2 separate regions of the Homo sapiens genome follow, and region 1 is linked to region 2. The links come from fine-mapping of genetic effects on gene expression. A gene starts in region 2. The other region holds a variant in brackets. All regions are shown on one strand. Distances are from middle to middle.

Evidence for each region.
Region 1: its variant is fine-mapped to the expression of S100A10 in whole blood (TOPMed, PIP above 0.99).

What each region holds. Positions count from the first base shown.
Region 1 is chr1:151,886,232-151,894,566 of GRCh38, forward strand. It overlaps THEM4 (thioesterase superfamily member 4), which reads right to left. Exons shown (of 6, transcript NM_053055.5): 3 at 2,983-3,142; 4 at 2,042-2,152. Among named protein-coding and RNA genes, the nearest start is that of THEM4, 19 kb to the right of the region's middle. The variant G/A (reference allele first, on the strand shown) is at 3,626.
Region 2 is chr1:151,990,364-151,998,698 of GRCh38, forward strand. S100A10 (S100 calcium binding protein A10) reads right to left here and starts at 3,496. Exons shown (of 3, transcript NM_002966.3): 1 at 3,389-3,496. RefSeq lists an enhancer at 1,536-2,735 and silencers at 3,304-3,603, 3,614-3,663, 3,794-3,923.

The sequences.
Region 1 (8,335 bases), 100 kb before region 2:
GTGGGGAACAAATGAACAGCAATGCAACTGATTTTTGTGGATGGTTTATTGGGTGGGACAAACACTAAGCATAGAGTTTGGCAGGTTCTGTTTCCCATTTTGCATTTGAGTATGTGCTTAAGACACAAACACTTTTTGAGATAAACAGCAATCTAAATACTTTGTTTCAGCTTGTTTTCAAAGTAACCGTTTACATTTATTTTTTTAGGAACGATGTTATACTTCATTATTCAACTTTATTTGAACATGGAAAAATATTTTTAAAAACATGGGACATGGAAAAATATAAAAAATTTAATTTTTAATATATTCTTTAACATGTTAAGAAAACCCAGATTTCTAGAATCTAATTTATAGTTATAACTAATATGAAATATTGACCATCTGTAAATATGTCAACTTTCCCCAAATTAATCTCTAGAATCAATGTAATTGCTATTAAAATTGTTAAAAGGAGGTACAATGACAATCTGGGTTTAAAGGTTAAAAATCTAAGGCACAACTAGGAATAGAAAGAAACTCTCTCAACATAATAAAGGCTATTTATGAAAACCCTACAACTAACATCATGCTGAATGGTAAAAGACTAAAACCTTTTCATTTAAGATCAGAAACAAGACAAGGATGCCCACTTTTGCCACTTCTATTCTACATGGTACTAGAAGTCCTAGCCAGAGCAATTAGGCAAGAAAAAGAAATCAAAGGTATTCAAATTGGAAAGGAAGAAGTACAAAGATCTGTTTACAAATGACATGACTTTGTATATAGAAAATCCTAAAGATTCCACAAAAACCTGTTAGAATGAATAAACAAATTCAGCAAAGCTGCAAGATGTAAAATCAACACAGAAAAAGCAGTTGCATTTCTATACACAAACAATGACTAATCCAAAAAGGAAATTAAGAAAACAATTAAGGCCAGGTGCAGTGACTCACATCTGTAATCCCAGCACTTTGGCAGGCCAAGGCAGGCGGATCACTTGAGGCCAGGAGTTTGAGATCAGCCTGGCCAACAAAGTGAAACACTGTCTCTACTGAAAATACAAAAAATTAGCCAGCTGTGGTGGTGCATGCCTGTAATACCAGCTACTTGGCAGGCTGAGGCATGAGAATAGCTTGAACCTGGGAAGTGGATGTTGCAATGAGCTGAGATCATGCCACCACACTCCAGCCTGAGCAATAAAGTGAGACTTTGTCTCAAAATAATAATAATAATAATAAAAAAATTAAAAATAAAAAAATCAAAAAGAATAAAATACATAGGAATAAACTTAACCAAAGAGCAAAAGTCTTATACACTGAAAACTACAAAACATTGATGAAAAAAATTAAAGACACAAATAAATGGAAAGACATCTGTGCCTGTGGACTGAAAAGACTCGGTGTTTTGTGTGTGTGTGTGTGTTTTTGTTGTTGTTGTTTTTTTTACAGTTGGGGTCTTGTTGCCCACCCTGGAGTGCAGTGGCATGATCCTAGCTCACTGTAGCCTTGAACTCCTGGGCTCAAGCAATCCTCTCAAGAAGCTAGGACTACAGACGTGCACTGCTGGGCCCAGCTAAATTTTTAAAAAATTAATTTTGTTATGTAGTAGATGTTGGTGCTCCACCCAGAGCCCCTTGGATCCTTTCTTCACTTGTTTTGGTTATTTTCTCTAGAGTCTGCTTTGCTCAAACACAGAGACCCTTAGAAGTACTTGGAAATTTATGGTCCCTGGGATGGCCCTGATCCTATGACCAATACATGCGAGAGTATAAAGACTCTAGCTCCCTCATCTGAGATGGAGACAATTCTGAGGCATAAATTTCATTCTAGAGCTCTCTTGTATGATCTGGCTAAAGCTATGCTTTGCTGGACTTTTGAGAGTTCAGCCTTGGTTGACACTTCTTCATCTTCCCCGTCCTGCTTCTCCCACTCCCTTGCTAGTCTCCTCTGGGAGCACTTCCTTAATAATCACTTGAACACAAATTATGGTGTCAAGATCTGCAACTGGGAACCTGACTTAACAACACCTAAGGATAAATAGAGAATTACTGTGAATTTACCTTTTATAATTGATGTTGAGATTGGCAGTCATGACGATTCCCCCAGCCATCATTGCACACATACCAACAGTAGCATCAATCATGGTTGCAATGGCACCTCCATGAATGAATCTAGTTACAACAGGAGTGGAGGAGAAATGTTTTCAGAAGTTCTGAAGATAGAGAGCCTCTTGAAAGAGAAAAATTATCCAAGCATCTTCACACTATTTACTTATGAAAGGTCCACTTAGCCCATGTTCAGTGTACTGAATGCCAAATACTATCTATGTCCCCAACTTTGTTTTGTTCACAGCATAATAATATAGTCTTAAGTATTTGTAATAAAACCAGAACTTAATAGTAACCAGATCGCAAGCAAGCAAAAAGCTAAAATGTAATTTAGAAAATTTATATTATGTTTTTATTATTAGTCAAGTGTGGTGTCATGTGCCTGTAGTTCTGGCTACTCGGGAGACTGAGGTGAGAGGATTGCTTGAGCCCAGGAGTTCGAGGCTGCAGTGAGCTATGATTATGCCACTGCACTTCAGCCTGGGCAAAGGAGCAAGGCCTTGTCTCACAAAACAAAACAAACTATACATATTCATTGTTTAGAAATGTAGGTAATGCAAATATGAAAAAAAAGAAAAAAATTTAGGACCCATAATACTACCCACCTAGTCAGTGACAAGCCACTGTTAACACATTAATGATATGCTCTCAAATTATACTCTATTGCCCTATGCCCTATAATATTATAATGCTCATATATAAAAATATTTAATCAATATTAATAATATAGATAAGATGTCCTTTAATAATGTATTATAAACATCTTTCCATGTCAATAAATATACATCTATGTGACCATTTGAAAATCTTTATTGTAGTCCATGTACAGGACACATGGGGGCAGTGTAAGATAAAAATCTTTTAGATCCACACTTTCAGGCTATCATTCTTACCCAGGTGGTCCTTCCAGGTAAGGGCCTCCTTGAAATAAGCAAACCATCCTTTTCTCAATGTCATTGTAGAACATCACGTATTCAAAGCCCAGGCCATCATCAAAGCTTCTGGTGAAGAGCTGGGCCTGTGACATTTGTTCTTCTTTCATAAGCTTTGGGTCTATAGAAAATGAGGTGGATGGCAAATGAGAAACAAGGGTGAGAGAAATGCCATGGCAGAGCCAAGCACCTGTACCCTGCTAGAATCACATGTCAATAGATGATTGATTCAAATGTCCACAGGGTGCAAAATTGAAAGGAATGGGAGCGTCTCAATGAAACAGAAGATAGGATCTTTGCCCTTGTGGAATTAACAGTCCAACTGGGGACAGAGTAAACAGACATGAAATCAAAATGAAGTACCCACACATGGCAATCAGGAATATAGTATATAAACGCTAACAATATACTGAATAAAATGGTACGGTAAAGACGGAAATCCTTCTTGGAAGAACTGTGGTTTAAATGCAATTTACAGAAAATAAAAAATGTAACAGAAAGGAGGTTTCCCTGGCAGACATGAGTTGAGTCTGAATCAGCAACAGGGTCAGTTCAGCCCAACACTCAAGTGATTGTGACTCTAAGCCCCCAAAACTGGCAGTGA[G/A]AACCATTAGGGTTCATGAAATCAGATTGTGGGTTGTAACCAGGCTTCTTTTTTTTTTTTTTTTTTTTTGACAGAGTTTCACTCTTATTGCCCAGGCTGTAGTGCAATGGCGTGATCTCAGCTCACCGCAACCTCCGCCTCCCGGGTTCAAGCGATTCTCCTGCCTCAGCCTCCTGAGTAGCTGGGATTACAGGCGCCCACCACCACGCCTGACTAATTCTGTATTTTTAGTAGAGACGGGGTTTCTCCGTGTTGGTCAGGCTGGTCTTGAACTCCCGAACTCAGGGATCCGCCTGCCTTGGCCTCCCAAAGTGCTGGGATTATAGGCGTGAGCCACAGCGCCCGGCCATTAACCAGGCTTTAAAAAGAAACAGAACACTTAGTTAACAGAACCATATACTCTGGGTAAGTAATAGTGCACTTGTTTAGACACAGTTTTTTTTCACTTACACAATTGTGAGCAAGTTGGGGGAACTGGATTGAATCAAAATATAGGTCACTTCAAAATAAAGATTGAAAGCCATTGCTCTCAAGAAATAGTGCATTTATCCTTTTGTATCTATTTTAAAATTTAATCCCCCTACTCACCTTTCTTTCATAGCTCATCATGATTTGCCATATATAAAACTGTTTATTTCTATTGAATTTATATTTACAAACGTGGAAAAAGATACAGATGAGAAGATCCAGGAGAAGTGGGGAGAGGGACAGGAAGGATGCATTTGAATTAGGTCATGAGCATCTCAGGGCAGGCACCCTGTCTTTTAGACTTTGCATACCCAACAAATGGCACAGATGTGCACATACTATATACACTTAAGCAGTTGTTGAGTGAATTGATGGTTTAGAAGGACAGACAAGGAACCTTAAAATTGGGGATCAGTATTATGGTGCAGTGGAAAGAACCTTGGCCCGTGAGTTGGGAAAATTAAATTATTGGCCTACCTCTGGCCTAGAACTCACTCTTTTGCACTACACTTTATCCATACAATGAGGAGATAAAACAAAATGAGCTCTAAGATCTCTTCCAACTCTGACATTCCAGGACTTCAGGATAAGATAGGTGTTAAGTGCTTATAATTGTTTTACTTAGGAGTTTGAGATTTCTGGTCTAGATTGGCAAACCTTGAGCTTATTTCATAAAAATGAGAAAAATAAGGTCTGGGTTGAGTTAAAATGTAGGTCATTTCAAAATAAAGACCAAAAGCTACTACTCTCAAGAGGATGTGTTTGTCCTTTGTGATGGTGAAAGAAGTTTGTTGGAAATGCAGAATCTCAGGTTCTACTTCTGACCTTCTGAAGCAGAACTTGCATTTTAACAAGATTCCTAGGTGCTTCATATTCATTTTTAAGTCTGAAAGGCAAGAGTATTTTAAGAAATGGGATAGCACTGAAAATAGCATTGGAATAACATGATGAGATTTGCATTTTGAATCATTCTGACAGTTGAGTGGAAGAAGGGCTTTGAGGAGGATAAGAATGGAGACAGGAGATGAAACTACAAAAATCACAATCACCAAACTTATCTGCTAGATGGGGTGATTTTCTCTAGCAATGCTTAACTATGTGAAAGCCAGTTCAAAGTAAAGATGGCAGATGGTTGGATTCATCCAGGGCTGGGGTTTTCCTAGGTTAGGTGGGCTACAAAAGTTCAGATAGATGAGGGCTATTGGACCATGAGAAAGTAAAGGATTCAATGAACTCAGAAGGTCTTAATGAAATAACAATTGTTTCTGAGGGGCCTTTGAACAAGTAAGCTGCTGAAAGGAAAAATGCTGTCATCAGAAAACAGGATGTTTAAATGTATGCATTTGGAGGCTGTGTACTGTCTGAAGATAAGGCTCGAGATGTTCATGGCAGTGTGTGGCTGGGGCTGGGGGATAAGAAAAGTTCATAGGTGATGAGGAAGCACATAAACTGAGGAGCCACTGTGTAGATGCTCGAGTTGCTGAGGATGCTGAATGGAGTTGGGTAGATAGCGGACCAGCTGCTGAAATACTCAACACTGAGGGAGAGGTTGACAGATGACAGCAACAAGGAGGAGAAGAAGAGGAGGGTGACAAAGTTAGATGGTATAAACTCAAAGAAACAGAGGTTTTTTGTTTTTGTTTTTTTTTGAGACAGAATCTTGCTCTGTCACCCAGGCTTGTCTCAAACTCCTGGCCTCAAGTGATCTGCCACTTTGGCCTCCCAAAGTGTTGAGCCACTGTGCCCAGCCCAGAGGGCTTTTTAAGATGAGGGGAAGTAATGGTTTGAAAACAAGTGTGGGTAGCAAAGAGGATCTCAAACTCCTCTTGATTCTGAGAGGGTCAAATTTTAGTCAAGAGCGAATGAGGGTTGGATGAAGAAATGAGCAAAATGTAGGAATGGAACCCTGGAAAACATTGACATTTAAGGAGCAAGTAGAAGGAGGAGGGAAGATTGGTCTGAAAGGTTTATGAAAGCCAAAAGAAAATGTTTCAATGAGAATGAGACAGGGAGGTCTAGTACAGTAAGTGCTGAAGAATGCACACTGAATTTGGCACTTCCGTCACTAGTGGCTTCAATGAAGACATTTCAGTAGAGCTGTGAGGGTAGAAGCCAGATTGTGCTGGGATAAGGACAGTCAGTTGTGTGATGTGCTAACAGTTGGAAGAGAATAAGTAATACAAACTACACATTTTTCCTCTTCATTTATAAAACAGAATAATTCTTCCCTCGAGATATATCAGAGATTCTGCAAAGAAACTTAAGAACTCTATAATTTTTCTTGATTAGTTTTATTTTTGTTTTATTCATTCCTTCAGCAAATACTAAAGTATCTACCATGAGGAAACTGAGGCACAGAAAGGTAAAGTGCCTTGCTCAAAGTTGCACAGCTTTAAATTGTGGAACCAGAATTTGAACCCAGGCACTAAATTTCAACCATTTAATTAAGAAGTTGTCAACTTCTGGATGGTCTCTAAAGCTGAGAGACTGCATGAGATTACCAATGGAGTGTGGAGAAGAGAGGAGTACTAAGGACTGAGACTTGAGGGCACCCCAACATGAAGGGTTTGAGGATGGGGAAGAGCCAGCCCAAGAAACTGAAAAGGAGGCACCAGTGAAGTGGAGAATGTGGTGTCCTAGAAGTTATGTTCAAACAGAAAGGAGTCAACAGCTGTGCCAAAAGCTGAGAGGTTAGCGGACTCAGCAACATGAAGGTCACTGGTACCTTTGGCAAGAGCTGTTTTGAGGGAGTGGGTTCAAGATAGGCTGGGCACAGTGGCTCATGCCTGTAATCCCCGCACTTTGGGAGGCCAAGGTGGGGCAGATCACTTGAATTTAGGAGTTCGAGACCAGCCCGGCCAACATTGTGAAACCCTGTCTCTATTAAAAATATAAAAATAAGCTGGGTGTGGTGGCATGCACCTGTAATCCCAGCTACTTGAGAGGTTGAGGTGGGAGAATCACTTGAACCCGGGAGGAGGAGGTTGCAGTGAGCCGAGGTCACGCCACTGCATTCCAGCCTGAGTGACTCAGTGAGACTCATTCTCAAAACCAAAAACAAAAAAAACAAAAAAACAACAAAACAAAAAAACCCAAAACAAAAGAGAGAGAGAGAGAGAGACTGGGAAGAGAGAAATGCAGTTGTGGCATGTTTATATGCTGATACGAAACATCTAGCAGAGATGGATGTCCTTCAGTAGGCCAAAGAAAATGGAATGCAGCGCACAAATGGAAGGCTTGGTCTCCCTAAGAGTGTGGATGGTTCACTCACAGCAGGAAGAAGCAGAACATCAGGCACAGATGCAGGGGGGAGGATATGTGAGGCAATGGGAGACTGGGAGTTCTCTTCTGACTGCTTTTATTTTCTCTTAGTGAGATAGGAAGCGAGACCAACTGAGGGTGAGAAGGGAAAGTATTAGAGGCATAAGAAGAAAGAAAAAGGCAGAAAATACTCATCCAGTAAGGGAGGAGAGTGAATAAACTAGGGAAACATGAAGTATGGTTGTTGGGCAATATTGAGAGCCTTCTTTTTCTCTTTTTTTTTTTGTAGGGGGGGAGACAGTCTCACTCTGTTGCCCAGGATGGAGTGCAGTGGCGCGATCTCAGCTCACTGCAACCTCTGCCTCCTGGATTCAAATAATTCTTCTGCCTCAGCCTCCCAAGTAGCTGGAATTACAGGTCCCCGCCACGAGGCCCAACTAATTTTTTTTGTATTTTTAGTAGAGACGAGGTTTCACCATGTTGGCCAGGCTGGTCTTAAACCCCTGACCTCAAGTGATCCGCCCGCTTCAGTCTCCCAAAGTGCTGGGATTATAGGCATGAGCCACGGTGCCTGGCCCAAGGGCCTTCTTAAAAGTCAGTTAAAAAAAACCAACCACCACCTAAAGATGTGTTTGGATGATTAAAAGATAATGAGTAACTCAGAAATATCTGTGAATGATTCAAATATACTATAATGATGGATATCTGTCATTACACAGTTGTTAAAACCCACGGAAAACATAATACGAAGAGTGAACCCTAAAACAAACTATGGACCTTAATTAAGAATAATATATTAATATTGGCTCATCAATTGTAACAAATACACCACAGTAATGTGAGATGTTAATAATAGGAGAAATTAGGGGTGGGGAGGGGATAAAGGGTATATGGGAACTCTCTGTACTTTAGGCTAATTTTTCTATAAAATTATAATGCTAAAAAAGTATATTAGTAAAAAAACACAGAAGGATAGGAATT
Region 2 (8,335 bases):
ACTTTTTGCTTTTCTAGTGCTGCTATCTCACTGCTGAGCTCCACAGGATAATAACAGCCTTGCTGTCCACTCACCTTTTATTGAAGTATTCTAATCTGATGCCTATACATGCCCTCTACATGTTTGTCTGAGCAACAGGTCTTAAGAAGGGAGGCGGAGACATCTTTCTCTGCATAGTTTTCTCTATGGAAAACAATTCTGGACTCCACAAATTTAGTTACCTTAGGAGGAATTCAATTTTCCATTTTTGGTTCTCCCTCCCTGAGCACCTACTTTGAATGTCCCAGACATGGTGTTAGGCATGAGGGTGTTCACACACACATACACACATGCACACACACACAAAGCTCTCCATGGTGCTTGCCTTTGAGGAGTTCACCAGCTAATGGAATACTATTAAAGCATTTGGCCTGAATTCTAGTTATTTGTGTTTCTGTTTCTTTCCTCACTAGGTTGCAGGTTTTTTGAGCAGGGTCCCAATAGCCAGTGCCCCAGCCCTCATAGAGCCTGCTCGATGAATTGTTAAGAAATTGATAATGATGTATTTTGGTTGTCCTGCGAGTAGCAGACAAGCAGGAGTCCTCCTCAGAAAAGTGTCTGCTCCTGAAAAATCTCAAATGTTTGCTTTGGACCTATGCCCAGATCCCGGCTGCAGTTTCAAAGAGGACACTTCTGCAGAGTGAGTCGGACTTGCTTTGCTCCTCTGTGTCTTGTCCATACCCTAGTTTTCTTACAGCCCACCCAGAAAATAAACGGCAGGGTGTCAGTAAAAACAAACATCTGTTATTTAAAATATGTTTGAGGTTTCCTTCCTTTTGCTTTAGAAATTTTGGAGTTTTTAAAATTGAACCCAGAAGGCATTCTTAAATTTGATCTCTGAAGGGAATTCAGAAAAAATGAGTTGAAGCAATGGATCTGGATCCAGGCTGTCTCTCTCACCTCTCACCAACTAAAACTTGCCCACTAAAGAACTGGGCAGCAAAGGAACGTTTCAGATGCAATTCAATAGGAAGAAAGAACTTGGAAGAAACCTCCTTCAATCTAACCAACTACATCAATTTTTCCTTAAAGAATGCTTAGGCATCAGCCTAATCAGCCAACATAGCTACTGTCAAAACTGCTTTTAGTTAAATCCTTTGGTAGGATGGGTGGTATTTATTTAGTAAAGGGATAGAAAGTGCTGAAAATTGTTTAAAAGAAGTACATTCTTTCTTTTTGCTTTTGATGTGGATTCCTAAATTTGTTGAGTCCCCAGAAAAATGAGAAACTTAAGATGTTAAAATTTTAGTCCAGCTTTCTCAGCACTTTGAGTGCTAATTTATACATTATAATCCTGAAAGAATTCCATTGTTTCTCTCAACTTTACGCTTTAAAAGACTGGACTGTGTCCAAGGGTATACCAAGTGGGTTGTGCTCTACAAAAGTCACATTTTTTGAACTGTCAGTAGAAAGCAGGGAGGCACACAGTCTCAGCTCCACCCTGACCTCACTGGAGTGGCTGCTTAGGAGGCTGGCCAGCACACGGGAGGAAAGGGGCCTATATGATGTGTCGGAGAAAAGCTAGGAAGAGCATCACCCAGAAAGCAGGGTAAGACCCAAAAATTGCTTCATGCCCAGTAGACCAAAAAAATTGTAAGAACCTAGATAAGAAACTCCAAATGGTGGATCAAGGGCCACAGTGAAGAAACTATCCTCTGGCTGTGAAGGAACAAATACACCATTTGGAAGGGATGATTAAAGAGAAACTGGATAGGAATCTGTGGGGGCAGGGCCGATGAAGAAACTTCCAATAAGTTATATGAACTCATTCCCACTCCAACCCCTGGCATTATCTTTTGCAATTTGCTGAAACATGTTGGAGGCAAAGATCACCGACTGGGTGTTTCCATGAGCCTGGCCTCACCTAAAACGCACAACATAAAACTCCATTCCTGGAGACTGAAACTCAAGCTTCTGGGGAAAAATATCCGCAACAACTGCAAACCTCTTAGCGGGAAAAGCTACCTCCCAAGTAAGGCTGAGGCAGGCTGCCAGGCGCATACTGGCCGATAACGAAAAGCGGTCTCGCCAAGGCCCTGCAGATCTAATTACTGCCCTCACCGGCAGTTCAGTCGAGAAACCTCTCCTGCAGACTGGCAGCCAGACCAGGTGTGACTCACTTCCTCTTGGAAAATGCCCTCTGAGATGGCACAGTTCTCCTTTTCCTTCAGGGAGTGTTCTGTCCAAACCATCCACCGAGAGTATCTGCAACCGGCCACACCCACATGGTCTCACAGCTGAGTCACAGGCCTCAGACCACTGGGAGAATCCTGGAGCCCTTTGTGCTAACCACGCCCTGCAGAAGCTCCCGCAGAGACGGAACTGGGTGGGGGCAGAAAACGGGGTGGGCTTAATGCATCCCAGAATCTGGCTTAGGGCTCCCCTGTGCTGGCCTGGCTTGGAGCGCTCTGCATTCCACCCCAGCCAACAAGGCAGAGCTCCTGGTTTCACTTAGGCAGAGCTGGACTGAGGCTGGACAGGCAGCAGTGTCCACGGCTAGGGGCAGCGCCATTCCTTCGGCCAAAGCACAGGTGGTGAACCAAGTACCAAAGGCACGTCTGTCTGTTTCACTGCACCGGGCCAAATTAATCTATGATTGGAAGATCCTTCATCAAGCCTGCTCTTCCTCCATCTCTTTCTGGTTCCACTTATTAAGACAGCAAGGGAACCCTTTCAGTAGAGAAACCACGTCACACAGGGCCCTCTCCCACAAACCCCAGCCAAACTGCTGTAGAAAGAAAACAAGTGGACCTCCCTCCCTCAGCAGGAAGACCCTTTCCGTCGAGCAGACAACAGGAAGCCCCGACCAGAAACGCCTGTTTGGCCGACGGACTAAGGGTTACGGAAGGGACGCCCCAGCTGCCTACTCGTCCTACCCGCGCCTACTTGGGCGGTACAGCCGGGAGCAGGCTACGAACATGCAGACCCGGCCTGCGAGCGGAACCCACCAAGAAACACGCCAGCCAGGGCAGGGGCGTGTAGGAGGGATTCGGTAACCCGAGAGACGAGTGGGAAAGTAGGAAAGGTGGGAGTAAAGCAACGCAAACATAAAGGGAGGAGGGAAGAGGTTCAGGCGCACCAATACCACGGTCCCCTCCTAAAGAACAAGTGCCCCCTCCTCTGGTCCGCGTGGGTCTGGGGGCGGCCGCGCCCGGGCCGGGGAGGGGCGCTGCTGGCCTCGTTTGGGTGTGGCCCGGAGCACTGAGCAGCGGATTCCCCACCAGCCGCTCCCCGCCCAGCCCCGCGGTGCTCCGGACGCCCCGCGAAGCCGGGTGCAGGGTTTTCCCCGGGCAGCAGGTCCGGGCCTGGGGACTACCCAGGAGGGGCGCGTGGGCCGGGCGGAGCTCACCTTGGCCGAGGCGCGGCGGACGCTGGGCGAGCTGGGCGAGCTGGACGCGGGGCGGAGAGGCGAGCGCGGCGGGCTGTGCGCCTTCCTTAGTACGTGCGGCGGGTGGGTAGAGGGAGGCGGCGCGGGAGCGGGAGGAGCCTGGCGGGCGCTCGGCAGGGCGCTCCCCCAGCCCTGTCTCCTCCCCCTCTTCCTGCCCCCGACTCCCCCGACCCCGGGCGCGCGGCCCACGCCCTGCCCTCGCTCCCGGACCCGCCTCGCAGAGGCCTCGCCCGCCCCAGACAGAGCGTTCTTGTAAACTTCTCTTCAGTAGAAACGGTCCTGCTCTCGAATATTTCAGGGCATCCCCACCCTGAGCCTGCCCTTCCTCTCGGGTTTGGTTTTAGAAAGTGTACAAATCAAAGAACCCGGCCGTCCTGCGGGTGGGGCACGCTGGCGCAGAACCAGAGGTAACCGGCTCTGCGGCCACCTACGGGTCTAGGAATTACTTGCTGGATGACCCTGCAGGGAGTGGCACGTGGAGTCCTATCGACCTCAGAGGCACTATCAGATTAGCCCTAGGAGGTCCGTCTGGGGGTCTCGGCGGCCTGCGCCAGTGGAGGGGCGGCACCTCCCCAGAAGCCGGGCTTCCCGCCCCACCGGCCCGCGAGGTGCCGCAGGGAGGGTGCGGTTTGGCTTGTCAGCACCCAGGGGCGTCACAAACCCTTTGTTGAACAGGGGATTTACCCCTTTGTGTGGCGTCACTTGATCAATAGTTCAGTTTCAGTGTGGCTAATAGTGTTAAAAACTGGCCGGGCGCGGTGGCTCACGCCTGTAATCCCAACACTTTGGGAGGCCGAGGCGGGCGGATCACCTCAGGTCAGGAGTTCAACACCAGCTTAGCCAACATGGTGAAACCTTGTCTCTACTGATACAAAAATTAGCCGGGAGTGGTGATGCGCGCCTGTAATCCCAGGAGACTGAGGCATGAGAATCGCTTGAACCTGGGAGACAGAGGTTGCAGTGAGCCGAGATCGCACCACTGCACTCCAGCCTGGGTGACAGAGTGAGACTCTGTCTCAAAAAAAAAAAAAAAAAAGAAAAAAGAAAAAAAGAAAAGAAAAAGGTTAAAAACTAAGTTTCCAAGGCAGTATGCTGTGGTCCTTGAAAAGTCCTTTAGAAGAATTTTCTGGAATAAATTTAGAGAAAACCTAAGTGTTTCCTAGGGGATGCTTACCAACTCCTCGCCCCTCCCCCGCCCGCCCTCTTTTATTTTAATTGTGACTCAGGGTTAAATACAAACTACTAGCAGCTGTTGGTGGAAAAGAGCCCAATCCCAAACTCTGGGGTTTTCCTTTGTTCCCAAGGGAGGCCTTGGGAGGAATGAATGATCCTAAAGGAATGAGCAGACCTGGGGAATCCTCCAAGTGCCACCTCTGACTAATATTGGCTGTTGCCAGGAAAACCCAACTTGGATTTCAGCTATTACTTTCCGTGCAACCCTGGTGCTGACTATTCAAGGGGACAGCTCTTCAAGATCTTCCTGTATACAGTACTTCCCAGTCCCCAGGTCACAGTCACCAGTGGAGGAAATCTCGGATCCCTTTTGTTGCAGGGATTGCAATGCGACTGGGTTTAGAATGGGAATGCCTGGGTTTGCGTACCCCTACTCATCTGATTTCTTCATCTGGTCCACAGACCTTAGGAGTGCTTTAGTGTATGTGGTAGGCCTGGGAATTCAGGGATTAGAGAATCAGTCTCTTTCTCTGAAGAGTTCCAAGTATTGGGCGTTAGATAAGCAAACAATTAAAATCCAGTGTGCTTAGTGAATGGTAGAGGATACTATTGGATACTAGGAGAACACTGAGGAGGGGCTTCCAAGTCCTCTTGGAGTGGTCACAGAATAATTTCTGCAGGAAGCAACATTGGGTAGAAATTTAAAAACAACAATAACACTTATTGTAACTTTTTAATCTGTACAAAGATTCCATTCTTAGAAGGCTTGGAAAATATATCAATGTATAAAAAATGATTTATAAATACATGAGCCAAAGATAAACATTTTCATATTTCTAGTCTTTTTATGCATATGTAACAAATATTTGCATAATTGTGATCATACTGATTATAAAATTAAGTACAGTCATTCACTGCATAACAGTGTTTGAGCCAACGATGGATCATGTATTCAGCAGTGGTTCCATAAGATTATAATAGAGCTAAAAAAATTCCAGTTGCCTAGTGACCTTGTAGCTGTCTAGCGCAATACTTTACTCATGTGTTTGTGGTGATGCTGGTGTAAACAAACTACTGTGCTGCCAGTTGTATAAAAATATAGCACATACCAATTATGTGTAGTATGCAATACTTGATAATGGTAATAAATGACTGTTACTGCATTATGTATTTACTACACTATACTTTTCATCATTATTTTAGAGTGTATTCCTTCTACTTATTAAAAAAACAGTAAAACTTAAAAAAAAGTTTAAAAAACAGCCTCAGGCAGGTCTTTCAGGGGGTATTCCAGAAGAAGTCATTGTTATCACAGGAGATGTGTGTTTTTGCCCTGGAGACCTTTCAGTGGGACCAGATGTGGAAGTGAAAGACAGTTATATTGATGATCCTGACCCTGTGCAGGTCTAGGCTAATACGTGTGTTTGTGTCTTAGTTTTTTTTTTTTTTTTTGTGTGTGTGTGTCTTAGTTTTTAACAAAAAACTTAAAAAAAAATAAAAATTTTAAAAATAGAAAAAACTTACATAAGAAGGATATAAAGAAAGAAAATATTTTCTACAGTTGTATAATGTGTGCTTTAAGCTAAGTGTTATTACAAAAGAGTCAAACATTTAAAGAATTTACAAGTTAGGCTGGGCGTGGTAGCTCACACCTGTAATCCCAGCACTTTGGGAGGCCGAGGCGGGCGGATCACGAGGTCAACAGGTCAAGACCATCCTGGCCAACGTGGTGAAACCCCATCTTACAGAGAAAGAACTAGCCGGGCGTGGTGGCACGCACCTGTACTCCCAGCTGCTTGGGAGGCTGAGGCAGGAGAATCGCTTGAACCCGGGAGGCGGAGGTTGCAGTGAGCCGAGATTGTGGCAGTGCACTCCAGCCTGGAGACAGAGTGAGACTCCATTTCAAAAAAAAAAAAAAAAAGAAAAAGGAAAGAAAAAGGAATTTCCAAGTTTATAACGTAAATTTACAGTAATCTAAGGTTAATTTGTTATTATTATTTTGGTTTTTTGAGACAGGGGCTCCCTCTGTCGCCCAGGCTAGAGCATAGCAGTGTGATCTCTGTTCACTGCAACCTCCGCCTCCCGGGTTCAAGTGCTTCTTGTCCCTCAGCCACTCGAGTACCTGGGATTACAGGCATGTCCCACAGCGCCTGGCTAATTTTTGTTTTTTTTAGTAGAGATGAGGTTTCACCATGTTGACCGGGCTGGTCTCGAACTCTTGGCCTCATGTGATTCACCCATCTTGGCCTCCCAAAGTGTTGGGATTATAGGCATTAGCCACTGCATCTGGCTAGGTTAATTTATCATTGATAAAAGAAAAACTGTTTTAAACATAGTGTAGCCTTAAGTGTACAGTGTTTCTAAAGTCTACAGTAATGTACAGTAATGTCCTAGGCCCTCACATTCACTCACTACTCACTGACTCACCCAGAGCAACTTCCAGTCCTGCAAGTTCCATTCATGGTAAGTGTCCTATTTGTATAGCATTTTAAATCTTTTATACCATATTTTTACTACACTTTTTCCATGTTTAGGTACACAAATACTTACCATTGTAGTACAATTGCCTACAGTATGCTATTCAGGGTTGTAGCCTCAGAGTCCTCGACTGTACCATACAGCCTAGCTGTGTAGTAGACTATGCCATCTAGGTTTGTACAAGTACATTCTATGATGATTGCAGGATGAAATCGTGTAAGGGCACATTTCTCAGAACGTATCCTCATCATTAAGCGACACATGACTGTTTCTATTTTTGTCCCATACTTTTTCCTTTTGTTCTTACTCTTTCCTATGTTACTAAATATTTATCAAGATCATATGTTTATTCATTTAAATCATTCTTTTCACCTTTTTATTTGACAAGTAACTGTTCAACTGTACTGTACTGTGTCTTCTTTTTTCTCTCTTCTCCAATCTGCCAGCAGAACTCTAAGGCCCTAGTGGGTGCATCTCCAGGAGGATGCTGCAGGGTTTCTAAAACATTGTGCTGAGTACTGGGAATACAGTGATGAAAATGGTCAGCACACCTTGCTCTTCCTGGCCTCATGTGGTTTCTTAATGACTCTGTGTACTAGCAGGTCCATAAAGCTTCAAGTATCAGCCATGCTTATAGTCTCTCTAGGAAAAGGGGTCCCAGGCAGTTCTTTCTCCAGGAAGTAGTTATACCTTGTCAACTACATGCATTCAGTGAAGCCAGCTCTGCTTCCCTAGAGAAAACTGATGGCATCAGGGACCAGTGCCTAAGCCTGAGCTGCCCAGCAAGGATAGTGTCTTAGCAGGAGGGTAGCCAACTGAATGGCCACTGGAGGAATGAGAGCAGAGGCCCCATCCATGTGGTCTCTGAAATGATGAGAAAGCAATGTTCAAATCTTCTACCAGGGCTGAAGTAGGTTCCAATGTACAAAATGTTGGGAGCTGGAGAGATTGATCCACTAGTGAGGCAGTATTGGGAATTTTACCACTTCTCCATGTGGCACAGCCACAAAATCCTATTACCCTCAACTTTTTTGGGTTTGTGGCTGTGGCACAGAAGGTGGGCTATCTACCAGAAATGTGTGTTCCTCTTTTCATTGTGTAGAGTTTTGGCCGCTCAGCTAGGGATTATATTTCTACCACCTCATACCCCTAGGTAGGACTATGTGACTAGCCACCAACACAATGGGACTGGAAGTGATATGTGTCACTTGCAGGCCAAGGCAGTAAAGAGGTGACTTTCCCATATTCTTTCTCTCC